Linked DNA regions of Homo sapiens: region 1 is linked to region 2. Evidence: fine-mapped expression QTL. Tissue or cell type: whole blood. Region 2 holds a variant in brackets; the other region holds the start of a gene. All regions are shown on one strand. Distances are between the middles of the regions. Region 1 holds the start of RAP1GDS1 (Rap1 GTPase-GDP dissociation stimulator 1). Region 2 holds the start of LOC105377340 (a long non-coding RNA gene).

Evidence for each region.
Region 1: it holds the start of RAP1GDS1, and the variant in region 2 is fine-mapped to the expression of RAP1GDS1 in whole blood (TOPMed, PIP 0.99).

What each region holds. Positions count from the first base shown.
Region 1 is chr4:98,256,898-98,265,457 of GRCh38, reverse strand. It overlaps RAP1GDS1 (Rap1 GTPase-GDP dissociation stimulator 1), which reads right to left and starts at 4,074. Exons shown (of 15, transcript NM_001100427.2): 1 at 3,889-4,074. The coding sequence starts at 3,892. RefSeq lists silencers at 3,784-3,853, 3,954-4,253 and enhancers at 4,220-4,782, 4,534-4,833.
Region 2 is chr4:98,198,310-98,206,869 of GRCh38, reverse strand. LOC105377340 (a long non-coding RNA gene) reads left to right here and starts at 2,739. Exons shown (of 4, transcript XR_001741771.2): 1 at 2,739-3,170. RefSeq lists an enhancer at 2,099-2,820. The variant C/G (reference allele first, on the strand shown) is at 3,313.

The sequences.
Region 1 (8,560 bases), 59 kb before region 2:
AGACACTAGTGTTAGAAATGTATTCAAATCCTAATATGACAACGTCCTTGTTATCAAGGAGCAGAGACTAAAGGACAGACCAAAAAGTCTAATGCAATAGGTCCAAAATTGAGTATCTAAGTTTCCTCTTCCTGTTAACTGAATATGTATCAGGAGATTCTCGTATCCTCATTATCACCCAGGCTAAAACCTGTGACTCTCAATTCCATACTCAATGGGTTGCCAAGTAAATCCTATTCTTTATTTGCAATATTCTATTCCCGTTGCCATAACCTGGTTCAAGCCATTAAACATTTTCGTCCAAACTCCAACAACAATCTTCTGAAGTGTTCTGTAGTTTCTCATCTAATCGATCCTGCACTCAACTGACAAATTTTCCTATACCACAGATGTGATCCATCACTTAACTACATAAAAATGTTTAGTGGTCTCTCAATAGGTAAGTCAGATTAAAATTCTTCAGCTTGGCATTTTAGATCCTACATTATCTGGTCATTAGCTATTACTGTACTACTTTTTCATGTCTGTTACCCACTATTTCCTTACCTTTTGCTCTAGCCAAACAATGCTGTTTAATCATATCCTGGAAATTCATAAAATGTTTCCTATCTATCTTCATTTATGTCATTTCTCTTCCAACCCCAGACCAACTCCATTCTGATTAACAGTCTCATTTCTACCTTTAAGAAGTTTAACCCACCTTTGGTTCAAATAACACCATTTCTCTAAAACGTTCTCTCCATTCTCTGAATCTATAATATATGTAAAGGTCTTTTATATAACTTATACTTTTACTTCTATTATAATTTGTGTATGTGTCATATTGTTCCTGCTAAGATTATAAATGTGAAACATGAATATCTTTTTATCTTTGTCCTCCCAGTACACTGTAGTACAGTACACTGCACAGTTGATATCCAACAAACACTAAATGTATGTTGAATCTGAAATATGACATATACATAAAATAGTAGCTATGGCCATAAAGTTATATAGGACTTTTCTTTCACTCTCTTGTGTAGGAAATTATTGCCATGAGAATATATATATATATTTTTTTTGAGACAGAGTTTCCCTCTTGTTGCCCAGGCTGGAGTGCAATGGCATGATCTCGGCTCACTGCAAACTCCGCCTCCCGGGTTCAAGTGATTCTCCTGCCTCAGCCTCCCAAACAGCTGGGATTACAGGCGCCCGCCACCACACCCGGCTAATTGTTTTTTTGTATTTTTAGTAGAGACAGGGTTTTACCATGTTAGTCAGGCTGGTCTCCAACTCCTGACCTCAGGTGATCCGCCCGCCTCGGCCTCCCAAAGTGCGCGCCCGGCTGAGACTATCTTTAAAAATCAACCTTATTTATTTCTTGAGACAAATTAAAAAGCACTTCTCCCTCCCCTCATCATTAACCAGTATACCTTCTACCTTCTTATGTGTACATGAATTGTTATACTAACTTCCTTGGCCCAGATATAAAACTGTTCCCCAAGGTTTCAATTTTAAATTATCATATGTACCTACTGATCATACATGAAACTGCCTTACCATTGAAGAGAGTTTAGAAGGAAACAGATTGCCTGAGGTTGACTCAAAACCAACCTACAGTGTACTGGGAGGCATGGTACAATTATACCTTTCTGTTTCTGCTTATCCCCCAACTAGATAATATGTACCAACCCAAATGTTTGTTCAGATGAAGACTATATCTTCAGGTTCAAAAGTTGAAAATAATAGGTGGCTTTAAGTTCAACAATTTGCCAAAGATTTACTGAATTTCTATTTGAAAAGCACTGTGGGGAACACAAAAAATAATAAGACACTTTTCATCTTCTGGGACTCATGATTAAATGCACAGCACACACATAAACAACTTTATTATATGGTAGATTACGTAAGTGCTAAAAAGCTTCTAACAAGGTACAAACAGTGCTTATGAAGAGACAGATTAACCAAAGAGTATCAGAGATGGCTTCAAAATGAGAGATAGGTTTCTATTTGGCCCTTTTTAAAAATCAAGCAATAGCACTCAAGATTTTGAAGATTATTTTTAAGTAGATAATTTCTTTTAGGTATTTTTATTCACCAGTGTTGTAACGGAATTGGATTTTTTCCACTGAAAAAGTACGGATTTAACATGTAAGCTAAAATGTTAAATGGATTGTTTAAGGCTCACCTGGAAACATGGGAAAATATATTTTGCAAGCCAAACTTGAACTTACAGTCCAATATCAGATAGGGTTATTGGACATACTGTATATTTCCTTTGAACATACACACACTTATCTGTGTATGTATGTTCAAAGGAATTTTATTTCAAAGTGTATTTTATCTGTGTATGTTCAAAGGGAACACACATAAACGTGTGTATGTTCGACGGAAATATACAGCTTGTCCAATAATCTGATATAATACCTATTTAAAAATCTACTTTAAGAGAAAGGCAGACACGCATAAATGGGCCACCCAATTTTTACAGAAATTTGTTCAGCATATCGAGTACTCACGTTAAAAAGAAAAAACAACTGAAAATAAAATTCAGAGCCCTAGACCTTTTTTGATTCATACCACCTCCTCCGTCAACCCTGGCCTCTTCCAGATATATGGCCAAAGGTCGGGATCAAAGCCTGAAGCATTTGCTGTTCCAGAAAACTCTATGGACACCATTCCCAGGTTTAGATACTTCTTGAAGATTCTGAGTTGCACCACCTAACTCTGAACGTGTTGAGCACTGTATTAACAGATGAAAGGACCACATTCATCTCAAGCTTTAAATAACTCGCACAGAAGGGGTGGGAAAAGTCCCAGCTGACAGATGCCAAGGGAGCAAATTTTAAAAAGAGGAAATTATGACAGACAGGAGTGGAAGCAAACTGGGGAACTTAGTACAAGTCGCTACTATTAAAAGAAACTTTGAGCTCTTAATTACATGACAGCATTCATCAGACGTTTCTGTGATTACTGAATGTAACAGTTAAGCAATAGATGATGTAAAAAAATTAGGTCAAATGTATATATCGTTTTATAAAACATATTTGCTCTTAAATCTCTCATCCAAACCAATCTCTTCAGATTAACTATAAATACAAAGGAACTAAAATCAGATTATGCAGATTAGACAGGAGGAAGCTGGGAAAGAATAACTACCATGTAAGTTCGGTAACAACGTTACAGGGCGCAGTTTCCTGCTACAGAAGACGGACGAAGGAATCCAGAAAATAGGCTGGGCACGGGAATATTGCACACTGTAGTCACCCAGCACTAATTCAACAGCTAGCGGCTCTATCCTGCCTCACGTTCCTCGTGGCCTCTGACAAGTCATCCTTTCAACCTATGAGGCTGTCCGCTCTCCCCCTTGGAAAATAATTTCCGTGCAGGTTGTAAGATCTCCCTCACAAACTACTTGCTTCCACTTCCCCGCCCGGGATGAGGAGTCTCCACGACGGGGAAAGGTCGCACTGACAGAGAAGGAAGTTACACGAAGTGGTAGTGGTCGGACCCGAGCCTCGAGCTCAGTACACGCGGGGGAAAAGGAAGCGGGCGGCCTCTGGAGAAACGGGGATGGAGCTGCAGATGCGAGCCCGCGAGGCAGGCTCCGTGGTGCCCGGGCACCGGCAGGAAGAATGGAGGAGGGGAGGCGAGGCTGCGAGGTGCCGGGGAGCCGGGCGGCGGTCCGGCCCGCGGCCGACCCCACCCCAGCCCGCGCTCGGGACCCTCCCAGCCCCGGCACCCGGCGTGCGTTCCGCGTGCGCCGACTCTCCCCGGAGGAACAGCCACCGTCTCACACCCGGGGACTGGAGAAATCCGGCAACTTTGCGCGAGAAATGCTTCCCACCCTGCAGCACGCCGAGAAAGAAAAAAATGTCAGGCGATGACGGCGGAGGAAGGATGACTTACCCATGTTGCTCCCCGAGGGTGAGGAACCGGCGGGGCGAGGCGAAGGTCTGTGGTGCGGGCGGCGCGGCTCTGTGTCCTCCCTCTACCTCCGTCTCTCCCGCAGCCAGGGAGGGACCCGCGGGGGGCGGCCGCCGGGGAGGAGCAGCTGGTGCTGCTGCAGGCGGCGCGGCCGCGGCGGGGACGAGCGGCGGGGGGCGGGGCGGGGCGGGGCGGGGCGGGACTGGCGGGCGCAGCCTGCGGCGGGCGCGGCTCCGAGCGGGCGGGCGGCGGAGGCGCGGGAGCCGGCCTGAAGAGCTCCGGCCCCGACTCGCAGCCCACGAGCGCCCCGCCCTCCCCACCGAGCATGCTCAGTGCCTTTTCCACCCCTCCCTCTGTGGCGAGCGAGGCTAAGCGTGCGGGTGGGCGTGTGTTTGCAGACCGGCTGCAGCCGCGGCAGAGGATCTTCATGGCGGCCGCCTGAGAGGCGGAGGGCGGGCCCGGAGAAAACAGGGAATGGGGATATTGAGCCCGATCTGCTAGCAGAGGACTCACCGCTGCCTTGCTTTCCCACCCTGACCCACCAACCCCTCACCCGGAACCCGGGCTTGCCTTCTTTACGGGACGACCGGGCCGCACAGGCCGGAATTAACCGGAGAAGAGGCTGGGCCGCCGCAGAGCCGGGAGGGGTGGTGGGAAGCCAGAGCTGACGAAGTTGGAAAGGACGTGTAGGCGACTAGGCCTGCGCCTCTTGGGGACACCTGAGGACGCCCGCTGGGCAGCTGGCTGAGGAGGGGCCGCCGGGAGGGCGCTCGATAGCAGGCGTGTCATTGGGACACTTAAGGCTGCTCTAGCTGTGGCCAGCTTAGAAACAAAGGTCCCGGCAGCGAGGAGAGCGCCCGCCCCAGGATTTCCTCGAAGAGTGTGTCGTTCTCCCTCCCGGAGGAGCGCGGCCTTCCGTTCCCCGGAGGGCTCTGGAAAGGCCCTTTAACCGGGGTGCCGTCGGGCTCCATCCTGCTGTGAAAGCGGGAGGAACTACGTTCCCCAGGCTTGAAAATAAGCGTCCTGCTGGGTTGGCTGCGGCACTGCCAAAGCTAACCCGGCGGAGGTCCTTTGATCCCGGGGCCACCGCCCGCTCCCACCACCACCTCGGCCTCGGGGAGAACCTGAGCAGGGCTCTCCCACTGAGGGCGTCCTCCCGACTGGGCATGCACGTGAGGCCGGGGCTGGCTTCGGTCCTCTTCCCTGGGGTAGGAGGCTGGAGGAAACCGATTTCTCTGCACCCTAATCTTGCCCTGGCTCCTCCTGAGTGGGGTGAGGAATCTGGTCGCTCTCCAAGGCTACAGCGACCGGAGTCCTTCAGGGGACACTGTGCAGTCAGCAGTACAACCTGTTGGAGAAAGATGGCTGAATCGAGGTGTCTTTCCCCTGTCAACTTTCACTCGGTCAATCCAATGTTGAGAAAGGGCTTTTTTTGTTTGTTTGTTAATTAGTCGCCTATTCTCACAGTCATCAGTTTCTGCTTGGTGACTAGTATTTCGAGCACACAAATCAGAAGCGACCCTGTAATTTGTTAAGCAAAGAGCAGATTTTATGTGATTTTTCTACAGCAAGAAACGATAATTAAAAAGGTTTGGTAAAACAGGAAAATACAATTTAACTGCTGAAGTCAAATATATGGGACTTTTCTGATGCATGAGACTATCAGGCACCTCACTCTTAGGATGTTCTTCTTGTTTGCCTCTTAAAATAATCGCACTACATTAGTTCCCTAGGGCTGCCGTAACATACCACAAATTGGGTGACTTAAAACAACAAATTATTATCTCACAATTCTGGAGGCCAGAAGTTTGAAATCAAGGTGTAGGCAGGGCTGTACTCCCTCTGAGGGCACTGGGGAGGGATCTCGTCCATGCCTCTCCTAGCTTCTGGTAGTTTCTTGGCATATGGTAGCGTAACTCCAATCTGAACATGGCTGTTCTCCCAGTGTGCTTGTGTGTTCAAATTTCCCTTTTTAATAAGAACAGCAGTCATAACGGATTAGGGGCGAACCATCCTCCAGTATGACCTCATGGACGTTAATTATATCTGCAATGACCCTATTTCCAAATCAGGTCACATTCTAAGGGACTAAGGGTTAGGACTTCTACATATGAATAGGGCCAGCCTGGCCAACATGACGAAACCCCATCTCTAACTAAAAATACAAAAAATTAGCCAGGGCCAGGCACAGTGGCTCACGCCTGTAATCCTAACACTTTGGGAGGCTCAGGAGGGCAGATCACTTAAGTCAGGAGCTGGAGATCAGCCTGGCCAACATGGCAAAACCCTATTTCTACTAAAAAATAAATAAAATAAATAAATTAGCTGGGCATGGTGGCACGTGTCTGTAATCCCAGCTACTTGGGAGGCTGAGGCAGGAGAATCGCTTGAACCCGGGAGGCGGAGGTTGCAGTGAGCTGAGATTGCACCACTGCACTCCAGCCTGGGCCACAGAGCAAGACCCTGTCTCAAAAAAAATAAAAATAAAAAAAAAGAATCCGGGAGGGGTACACAATTCAACCCATAATACACCAATGCAGACCCCACCCTCAGGGCCCCTCACTGCCCCCACATCGGCCATGTTACACATTAATTTTATTACTCCTCCAGAAGACCAGCCTGGGCCTTTGCATTGCTGCTCATCATTTTTTGTTCATCTCTCCTTAACACTCATTAATCTCTTCCAGATTGTCAAGTTAACTTGCTTTATTTTTCCTACTTCCTTATCTAATTACATATTATAATAATTTCATGGAGTATCTTCTATCATTTATTTGGATGTAAGCGTTGAAATTAGCAAAAGCAGCTGAAGTGGCTTTCTCATTTCCCATCTGACACTAGTTAAAGTGCCTTTTTTGTTCTACTTCAATCTACAAGCCATCTCCTTAGCCTTCCTGCCAATTAAAACCAAAGGATTGTTCAGGCTTAGTGCATATACTGAGTCCTAATGCACCGGTGTTGTAACCATAGTGAGAACCAATACTGATTGTTATATGCAGAAGTGAATTACTTCCAGACTGGTATATTGCCTACTCCTTGCACACACAATGCCACCTCCCTTCCCCTCTCCTTTCTTGTTCTATTATAAGAATATAATGTTTCTGTCTCATATCTTTACTTTCTTCCTTTATGTCTTTATTCAAAAGTTACCTGCATGATGTCTTCCCTAGTTATCTTATCTAAAATTTCAACACTCCTTCCCATTTCATATCCCCACTTCTATACTTTATTTTTTTTCCTTAGCAGTTATCAATAAGATAATATATATTTTGCTTTTGGACTGTCTCCCACATTTAAATGTAAGTTCTCCTAGGGAAATAATTTTTGTCTGCTGTATTTACCATTATAACCCCCGTGCCTAAATAGTGCTAGCACATAGCAAGTGCTTAATAAAAATTTGCTAGGTATGGTGGCTCACACCTATAATTCCAGCACTTAGGGAGGCCGAGGAGGGAGGATCACTTGAGGTCAGGATTCTGAGAGCAGCCAGTACAAGATAGCAACACCTTATATCTACATCTCTTGACATCCCTGATGTCAAGAGACTCTTCCAAAATCGATCTACTAATACCCATACTGTATGTTAGGCAATGGTCAGGATTTTATCAGGCCTGCTACAAAACAAAGGAAGTTCTGGCCCAGTGCAAAGGTTTTCAACTTCAATCTAGGAAATGTCATATTTATAAAGTATCACGGATTTATTTGAATAACAATTTCTGTTGAAAATTGGTTTATGATTACTAAATAGCTGTTATGGGGGAGTATCAAGGAAAATGTCTTTTAGAAAAGATCAGAAGCAGTACATTTTGGCAAGACTTATAACTTACCTCATTGATGCATGTAAGCTTAAAGAGGTTAGAAGGTGATTTAAATTCTTTAGAGGAAATCTATTGGGAGGGGCAACACAACAAGAAGTGGAAAGAGAGGAGAGAATGTTCTTTAAAAGTATAATAGGGAACTGATTGCCTCCTGTTCACCATGATGTTCTGAATATCATTTAAGGGAATTTCACTGGAGTAGTTAATTGAACTTTGCGGTGATAGAAAATGATTTGGCAGTGAACAGCCTTCTGCCTAAACTGTTTATTTTTCAGAGACTTCATTGGTGAGATCAAGTTAGTCCAGGTTGAACAACTGAAATGTCTTAACCTCAATGTAACCTCTTTCTCCCCCGCTCTCCATTTATTTAATATTTTAGCCATTTTCTAAATGTTGTAAAATCTAAATTATTTTCATAGGCTGTCACCTCAAACTAATGTCTACATGTTTCAAGCAACAACAGACCTAGATTACATACAGTTTTTAGATGGGATATACCACTTTAAAATCAGTCATGTAGTTATTGAACATTTCTTCTGAGCTCAGCACTGTGCTAGATGCTATAAAAGAACAGCTATAAGGGCCAGGCGCGGTGGCTCATGCCTGTAATCCCAGCACTTTGGGAGGCCGAAGCGGGTGGATTACGAGGTCAGGAGATCGAGACCATCCTGGCTAACATGGTGAAACCCCGTCTCTACTAAAAATACAAAAATAAACCAGGCATGGTGGCGGGCACCTGTAGTCCCAGCTACTCGGGAGGCTGAGGCAGGAGAATGGCGTGAACCCGGGAGGCAGAGCTTGCAGTGAGCCGAGATCGTGCCAGTGCATTCCAGCCT
Region 2 (8,560 bases):
TGGTGCCAACTTTTCAGAGAGCTCTTACCTTACCATCCCACTGAAAGTTGCCTATGCCTCCCTCATTCTGTCTCTTCTCACCCACCTTTATTCTTCTTCATAACACTCTACCTGAAATGTTATCCATATATCAGTGGTTGTCAACAGGGGAGAGAGGTATTTGGCAATATCTAAAAATATGTTTGGTTTTCACAAGTGGGGAGGGTGATTGCTACCATGGGCATCTAGTGGGTAGAGACCAGGGATGCTGTTAAACATCCTACAATGCACAGGACAGCCTCTCACACAAAGAATTATCCATTCTTAAATGTCAATACTGCAGAGGTTGAGAAACTCTGCTATACATTCTTATTGGTTTATTGTCTGCCTACACTCTGCCAGCAGTGACGATACCTAAAATATTTAACAACTAAAAGGGGTGTGGGCATTGACCAATAAGAGTAAGCACAAGTCATAAGCAACTAGTATGGCTATACAAGTATTCACCAGCTAACTGTTAGCCTTCCTACTAGAATTAAGACTCATGAAGGAGACTTTTTCTGTGCCTGCCTCATTTCTTAGTGAAGTAAGTATTTTAAATTGATCTACAGGTCTATAGACCATGCCATTTATTTTGTCTATTTGATTGCCTTTTTTCTTATTGATTAGCAAGTCTTATTTGTATATTAAAGAAATTAAGATTTTATTGTCATATGTTGCAAATAATGTTTTCTTCAGGTGGTTTGTTGTATTTTGTCTTTGTAGTAAGATTCTCTTTTTCTTACAGGCACTTAGTCTTACAGGAGATCTTAGTTTTTATGCAGTCAAATGTAAACTATTCCTTAGTGACTTCGGATTTTCAGTCTTCCTGTTAAAAGCCTCCTAGTCTAAGGTTGTAAAAAAAAAATTCTCTGTTTTTTCTTTAAGTTCTCTTATTATTTCATTTTTACAATCAAATATTTACATATCTGGGATTCATGCCCAGTTTTTCAATATTGGTCTGTTGAACAACTGATTTTCTCTCAGTAATTTAAGGAGATATATTTATTAATGCACTGAATTCCTATTTGTTTTTGGGCTTACTTCTGAATGCTTTAGTTTCACAAATCTGCCTGTTCTTTGGCTATTAATAACATTCATTAATATTAAAGCTCTACACATATTAATACCTGATAGAAATATTTTCCCCATATTAATTTTCTTTTTAAGAAATTTTCTGTCTTTATTCACACATTTATTTTTATAGGTGAGCTCTAGTATTATTTTTGCAAATCAAAAAATAAAAGAAGACAACTCTTTGGAATTTTGTTAGGGATTACACTGAATCAACTTATTAAACTTTGGGAGAATTTTCATGTTTATAAGATTGGTCTTTCTATACCAGATCAAAGCATATCTCCATTTATTTAAAGTTTTAAAAATTCCCTAATTTTTTCTCCAAGTAGATTCTCAGTTTTTACTCCTAAGTATTTTAATTATGAAATCTGATTTTGTAAATGGGATGCTTTCTTTCATTTTATTTTCCAACACATTTTTGTCCAGAGGGTTTTTTTTTTCTTTTTTTTTAAACTGGGTACCAGGCACATATGGAATAGAAGTGTGAAACTGATTTAAAAGCACAGAGTTAAGACATCAGTTTACGTTTCTGGCTATATTTGATTTTTTTTTTGGGTCTAGATCTCATCTTACTTCCCAGTTCCCCATTCCAAAACTAAGAATGCCTTATCTTACCATTCAGCCAATCTTGTATCTCAGCATCTTTCCCAGTTAGCCAACTTCCTACTGGCCACCGAAATACTTTGAGACTTGTAAAACAGGCTACATTGTTGTGTTTTGGGTTTTTTTTTTTTTTTTTTTTTTTTTTTTTGAGACGCAGTTTCGCTCTTGTTGCCCAGGCTGGAGTGCGATGGCGTGATCTTGGATCAACGCAACCTCCACCTGCCAGTTGCAAGCGATTCTCCTGTCTCTGCCTCCCGAGTAGCTGGGATTACAGGAATGCGCCACCATGCCCGGCTAATTTTATATTTTTAGTAGAGATGCGGTTTCTCCGTGTTGGTCAGGCTGGTCCCGAACTCCTGACCTCAGGTGATCCACCCACCTTGGCTTCCCAAACTGCTGGGATTACAGGCGTGAGCCACTGCCCCTGGCCAAACCAGGCTACATTGTAAATCTACATACTGATTTCTATGTTTTAATTCATTTTGTTTTCTAATACTTTGAGTTATGTGGATTTTTAAAAAATAAATTAACTCTATTTTTCTGCTCAATTTTTATGCTCCCACGGAATCAACAGAACTCTTATCTAAGTTTTGCAATATACGCAGCTTATACTCAGAGACACAAGAATACAGGGAGTCTGCCGAAACTCTAAAACTGAGCAGATCTGGAAACCACAACTTTTATTTACCAGTTTGGTCTATATCTATTAGCAATCTCATTCTTGTATTTGCAGAAACGTCAATGTCTGCCTACTGTGGCCTCCCCACAAAAAACTATTCATAAAAAGAAGTGAAGAAAGAGAACTGAAAATTATATGAAGGCCTTTAGCATCAGAGGTTTTCTGTTATTGTACTTGGTTTTTCTACCAAGCACTTGTTTTGCAGTCTAAGGAACGCCTATTTATTACTGCTGCAATGATATCCTTTCTTTGTTCAGATCTCTTCAGCACTGTACAGTTATACCATAGTTTGGTTTCAAGTTTATACAGACACACGTTTAGCCTTGGATCTCCAAAACTGACTATGTGCTAGTTTCTTAGGAATTGAAGTAGCTTAGGAACTTCTCACTTCTCACATGTGCTTTAACCAAAACTGCTTATTCTAGATGGCTAGGTTCGTGAGTTGGATGGGTCTTAAGCCCAAAGCACTGAGGGAGACTTCTATTTCAAAACCTTTGATGCCATTTTCCAATTAAAAATCTTGAGCAGAACCACCTCAATCTGTCAGAAATTTTCTAACGACGTTAAACCTCAAAAGGGAAGTTAGTTGTTCAGATCTTCACTCATTTTTTTCTCCAAGTGGCTCCTTCATTAGTATGCAAATTTTCCACACCCTACCCTAGAGGCAAGCTCTGCATACCAAGAAATCTTGACAAACATCAGGTTATGAGACTTCCCCCCAAGAGAACAGGTGCCTAACATCTTACACAACTAAGAGCAAAAGAGAGAAAATCTCCAAGAGGATAGGCTACAGGTACGTAAAGCAGTACATGCTGCCAGCTTGTCACTCAGCGTTCTAAATTCAGCCTCACTTGGAACTCTATTACACATGCAGGCCATCAAAAATCAGAGCAGGCCAGACGGAGATGAGAGTTTCGAGAGAGAGAAATGGAAAT[C/G]TGTGGAGGTAATTGCCTAAAACTTCTCTTGGTGCTTTCACTTTGTCTTTATGGTGTGTGGGAGGATCAGCCAGGTGTAAAAGATGACAGACAGAAGGGACACTATGAAACTGTAATGGGCCTAGTGCTCAAGTTTTTAAAACAGTCCACATAAGCTCTGTTATGGTTAGAATACAAATGCCACCTTTTTTTAGCATTAACATAATTATATTCTAACTCCACATGTTGTTTTAGGCATCTCATTTACCAACATACTTGGACATCAGATAGGCATAAATTAAAGTATATAATTTGTAGTGCATAAAAATCACAGAAATGCTTATTGATTCCTAAATTAGGATAACATATTTTCACTGGTGCAGTCTTTTTATCAATAAATCGTAATTGAATTTCCAAGTTAGAGCCTGCAGGGCAAATGTGCTCTAGTTTTTTTAGGTTTCCAGAGACACTGAGCCTAAACATGAATATTCCCTCACTAAATGTAACTGGATCACTTTGCAAGAAAGATGCTTCAATTCTCTTAATTTATTCAAATGAATATCATTCATATATTCTAAGTCCAAGATTTTCAACTACTCTGTAAATGTAATTAGCTTTTCTTATAAGCTATATTCCAACCAGTAGAATATTATTGAATATTATTGTTTCTCCTTTAAATGCATTCTCAAATTTCAGTCCTATTTTTAGTACAGTCACACATTAAACCTTTACCTGTGTGTTATAAATAAAGTTTCGGTGCCGCAAAAGAAATAGCACTTGAATATAAAATTTTCTTTTAATTCTCAGCAAGGCAAGGTACTTCTATAGAAGGGTGCACCCTTACAGATGGAGCAATGGTGAGCGCACACTTGGACAAGGGAGGGAAGGGGTTCTTATGCCTGACGCATGTGGCCCCTGCTGCTGTGTCATTCCCCTATTGGCTCGGGTTAGGCCGCACAGGCTAAACTAATTCCAACTGGCTAATTTAAAGACAGTGATGGGGTGCATGGTTTGGCGGGAAAAACGGTTATGCAGAGTAGAGAATGAGTTAGGGCAGAGCAGGTAGCAGGTAATCGGAATGAGTCAAGGTGGGGCAGGTGATTGAAATGAGTCAGGGTGGAGCAGGTAATCAAAAAAGGTTGCTTTATGTGGAAGTTAAGTTTAAAAGTAGAAGGCAAAGAACTGAACATACTGATATATTGATTCTTTGAAAAGAAATTTAGAACTCATATCTAACATGTGGGATAAATAAAAATTAAAAAAAAAATTTAAATGACTATTCCCTTTAGGGAATTTTGCCAACATTTTTTAGAAAATAAAAAACATATGCCAAATACATTAATGGCATAGAAAGCCATTGGAATAATACCAACATTTAAAAAGTAATATTCAGTATTTTAACATTTTGACTAGAAGAAAACAATGGTTGATGCAGTCACTTTGGAATTTTAGTTTTAAATGCCTCTTTTTATGGGAAATATTCAAGGTTAATATATAATATTCTTAAAATTGTGCTTCCATTAATATGGTCTATTTTCATTGTATTTCCTCAAAAACAGACCCTGAAACAAGAGCTTAGGTGCAGATGGTATATTCAGGAGATAATTCCTCATGGCAGGCAAATTGAGGAAACCAAACCAAGATAGAGAAGCAGGGAAAGCCAATAAAAAGTGCATGAATGAGCAAAGTACAGTAGTGGGCAACTGGGGCTTAATTTTGTTGGGATCCCCAGAGAAAGTGTGTATGCCATATATGGAAATAAATGAAGACCAAATGAGAACAGACAAAGCATATATTCAGACCTTGATATAGCAAGAGAGTCAGGCATCATCACTTGTGTTTTGGTAGAGACTCATCACTTGTGTTTGGTAGAGGCAGGCATAGGAGTGGAAAGCTTTATAGTGGTAAAAAGAGAAGGTTTCAGGTATGCCCTGATTTGAAGCTGTTGGCTTAAGAAAGCTATAGGTAGGCTAAACAGATTTGGGGCTTTCTGTGTGATTGATTGGGGTGCATATTTGGCTTTCTCTGGCTGGTCCTAATTTGGAAGCTGGGACAAAAATTAGGGAAGCTGTCAGTTATTAATCGAGTCCTGGCCATTTTGGGCCAATTGTTATAGGGATTATTGCTTGACTTACTGGACTGATTTCTGGAGATAGTGGTCTGACTTCCTACAAATCTGACTTACAGATAATATCCTAGCTTTCTGTAGATATGGTATGATTTCCTAGGGTGCTTGCTACAGATTGTAGGTCAGAGTTCTATTTTCATATATGGTCTGGCCATTGTCTATATATATATATAGAGAGAGAGAGAGAGAGAGTCTCTCAAATGCTTTAAAACTGTCCTGTGGGAGGCTAGAAAGCTTGGGGCATTTATCCATCTACTTCAAACTCATATTGATTGTTGTTGCTTTGAGTGACTTGGGTGGAGCAGACTCCCACAGTTAGTCCCAGAAAAAACCCTAAGGCAGAGAAGAGACACACAACATTTGAGGTGGTAAGCTGTCAGCATGTTGAAACTGTCTCCTACAGGTGACCTATTCATAAGTTGATTACATCTGCACAGACCCTATTTTCTTTTTCTTTTTCTTTTTTTTTTTTTTGAGACAGAGTCTCACTCTGTCACCCAGGTTGGAGTGCAGTGGCACGATCTCAGCTTACTGCACCCTCTGCCTCCCAGGTTCAAGCAATTCTCCTGCCTCAGCCTCCCAAGCAGCTGGGACTACAGGTGCGCGCCACCACGCCCAGCTAATTTTCTTGTAGTTTTAGTAGAGACGGGGGTTTCACCATATTGGCCAGGCTGGTCTTGAACTCCTGACCTCATGATCCACCTGCCCTGACCTCCCAAAGTGCTGGGATTACAGGCATGAGCCACCGTGCCTGGCCTGACCCTATTTTCAAATAAGGACACATTCTGAAACTCCAGGTAGACATGAATTTTGGGGGAACACTATTCAACCCAGTCCAGGAGGTAAGAATTAACTTGCCCAAATATGATTCCCCTGTGGCCTCCAAAAAAAGAAAAGGAATTGACCTTCTACAAAGCTGTATGAAAACTGGCCACAGCCAAACATCGAGGCAGTGAATCCTGGTCAACCATAAGACCTGCCCTTAGGCTCCTGATTATGCCAGGGGAAGGGCTCATGTTTGCTGCAAATATGAAAGCTGAGTTCACAGACTAGGGCTGGAGCCAAAGTTTTGCAATGTCATCTTGTTATAGTATCCTGGTCCCTGATCGCCTGAGAGTAGGAGACAATGCTTCCAAACAGGCAAAAGTCCGCACACCGGGGATTAGGGGCCCTATCCCAGAATGTGACATTAGACCATGCTAGCACTCTGTGTTCCACTTTACAATGCAACAGGGGACTGCATGCTTGTTACTGCTCCTGTCTTCATGAATTTTCCCCAGTAAATTTTGCTCTAGCAGATCTGGTATGTGTACTGACTGGCCATTGGTCCTTTTTTGCATAACAATATCTTATTTTGTTTAATTGCAACATCACTCTCTGAGATAAATATATAGTGATCACTTTTTTTTTTTTTTTTTTTTTTTTTTTTTTGAGATGGAGTCTGGCTCTGTCGCCCAGGCTGGAGTGCAGTGGCGTGACCTCGGCTCACTGCAAGCTCCGCCTCCCGGGTTCACGTCATTCTCCTGCCTCAGCCTCCCGAGTAGCTGGGACTACAGGCGCCTGCCACCACGCCTGGCTAATTTTTTCTATTTTTAGTAGAGATGGGGTTTCACCGTGTTAGCCAGGATGGTCTCGATCTCCTGACCTTGTGATCCACCTGCCTCGGCCTCCCAAAGTGCTGGGATTACAGCTGTGAGCCACCACGCCCGGCCTCATCACTGTTAATATTACTTAACTGAAGCAAACTCTCTTTAGCCGATGAAGCAGAAAAGGGAGTTTTGAAAAAAAGACTATTGGTTAGCTCACAGAAGCATTTGGAGGCCTGGAGAGCTAGACTTGAAGTTAAGCTCCTAGGAACAATTCTGAAAATCACATGGCAAAGTTGGCGCGGAGAGGAAACTGCTGCTTCTCTTGCTGTCCCACAGAGCACTAGGGAAGGTGTTGCCAACTCTCAACTCCCTGCCTGGGCCACATCTGTGCCTGGAACTTGACCTTGAAATCACTGAGAAACTAAACTGCATACAGTGTTGTTGCTACCACCACAAGACGGCAGCATTGTTGTCCACTGTACCAGAAAAATGGATTCTGACTGGAGCCTTCTTCTTGTATGCAAGATTTTAAAACAGTCCACATAAACTCCGTTACTTACCTGTCAAATTCTTACATGTGTGAATCTCACAGGAGAAGTCAAAGTCACTGTCATATTCCTAGGCCCAGCAGTAAGAGAGGCTGAGAATTCAGTTTTCTGCATTCTACTTTGTGGAAGCGGGACTCTAAAGACTGAGGATTTTCCAGTATGGTAAAATTGTTTTCAAAATATGCTGGGTAGTCAGAAAACATGACAAATATCCGTGTCCAATATAGTAAGCAACTTTATTTTACCTGTGAGGCATCTGAAAATCAGGAAATTTCAATAACATGTCTAAAATGTTACACAGCTAGAAAGGGTAGAGTCAGGCTATAAATCCAGGTCTGTCTGACCTTAAATCTCGCATTCTTATTCGTTGCTTTTTTGGTCCAAACCAAAAACATATAGACAGGTATACATCCTCATACATGGAATTTTCAAATAAGAACAGTTCTGTTATTATTACCAGAGTATTGACAGTGTTGTTCTAATGGGAATTCGTAGTGTGCCTCTGCTTTTTGTGCGGGTTTTTTTTTTTTTTTTTTTTTTTTTGGTGAGGGGAGAGGGGAGTCTGCTCATAATCCCTTCTTTATTCTTCTGGTAATAGCAACTCTTCCTTTGGAAAGCCATCCCTCTCCAAATACATATAGACCCAGTGGGACCGTTGTCACAGCATTCTCATTACATCCTTCAGGAGTGGTCATGCAGATTAGGCTGTCTGACCATCAACATCACCCCCTTGGCCATAGTGATTGTCTTGGGGATGGGCATATTACCCAAGCTGGGCCAATAAGAATTCTTCCTGGTACTTTTGCTAAAGTTAGTGTTCTAAGAGACCCTCTGTGTTTGGCTGAATAATCACCTCCCCAAATATGTTGATATCTGAATCCCTAGAACCTGTGAATATGTGACCTTACACCATAAAACAGATTTTTTAGATATGATTAAATTGAGAATCTGGAGATGAACAGATTGTCTTGAATTATCTGGATATTTCATTTGGGGTGTGCTTG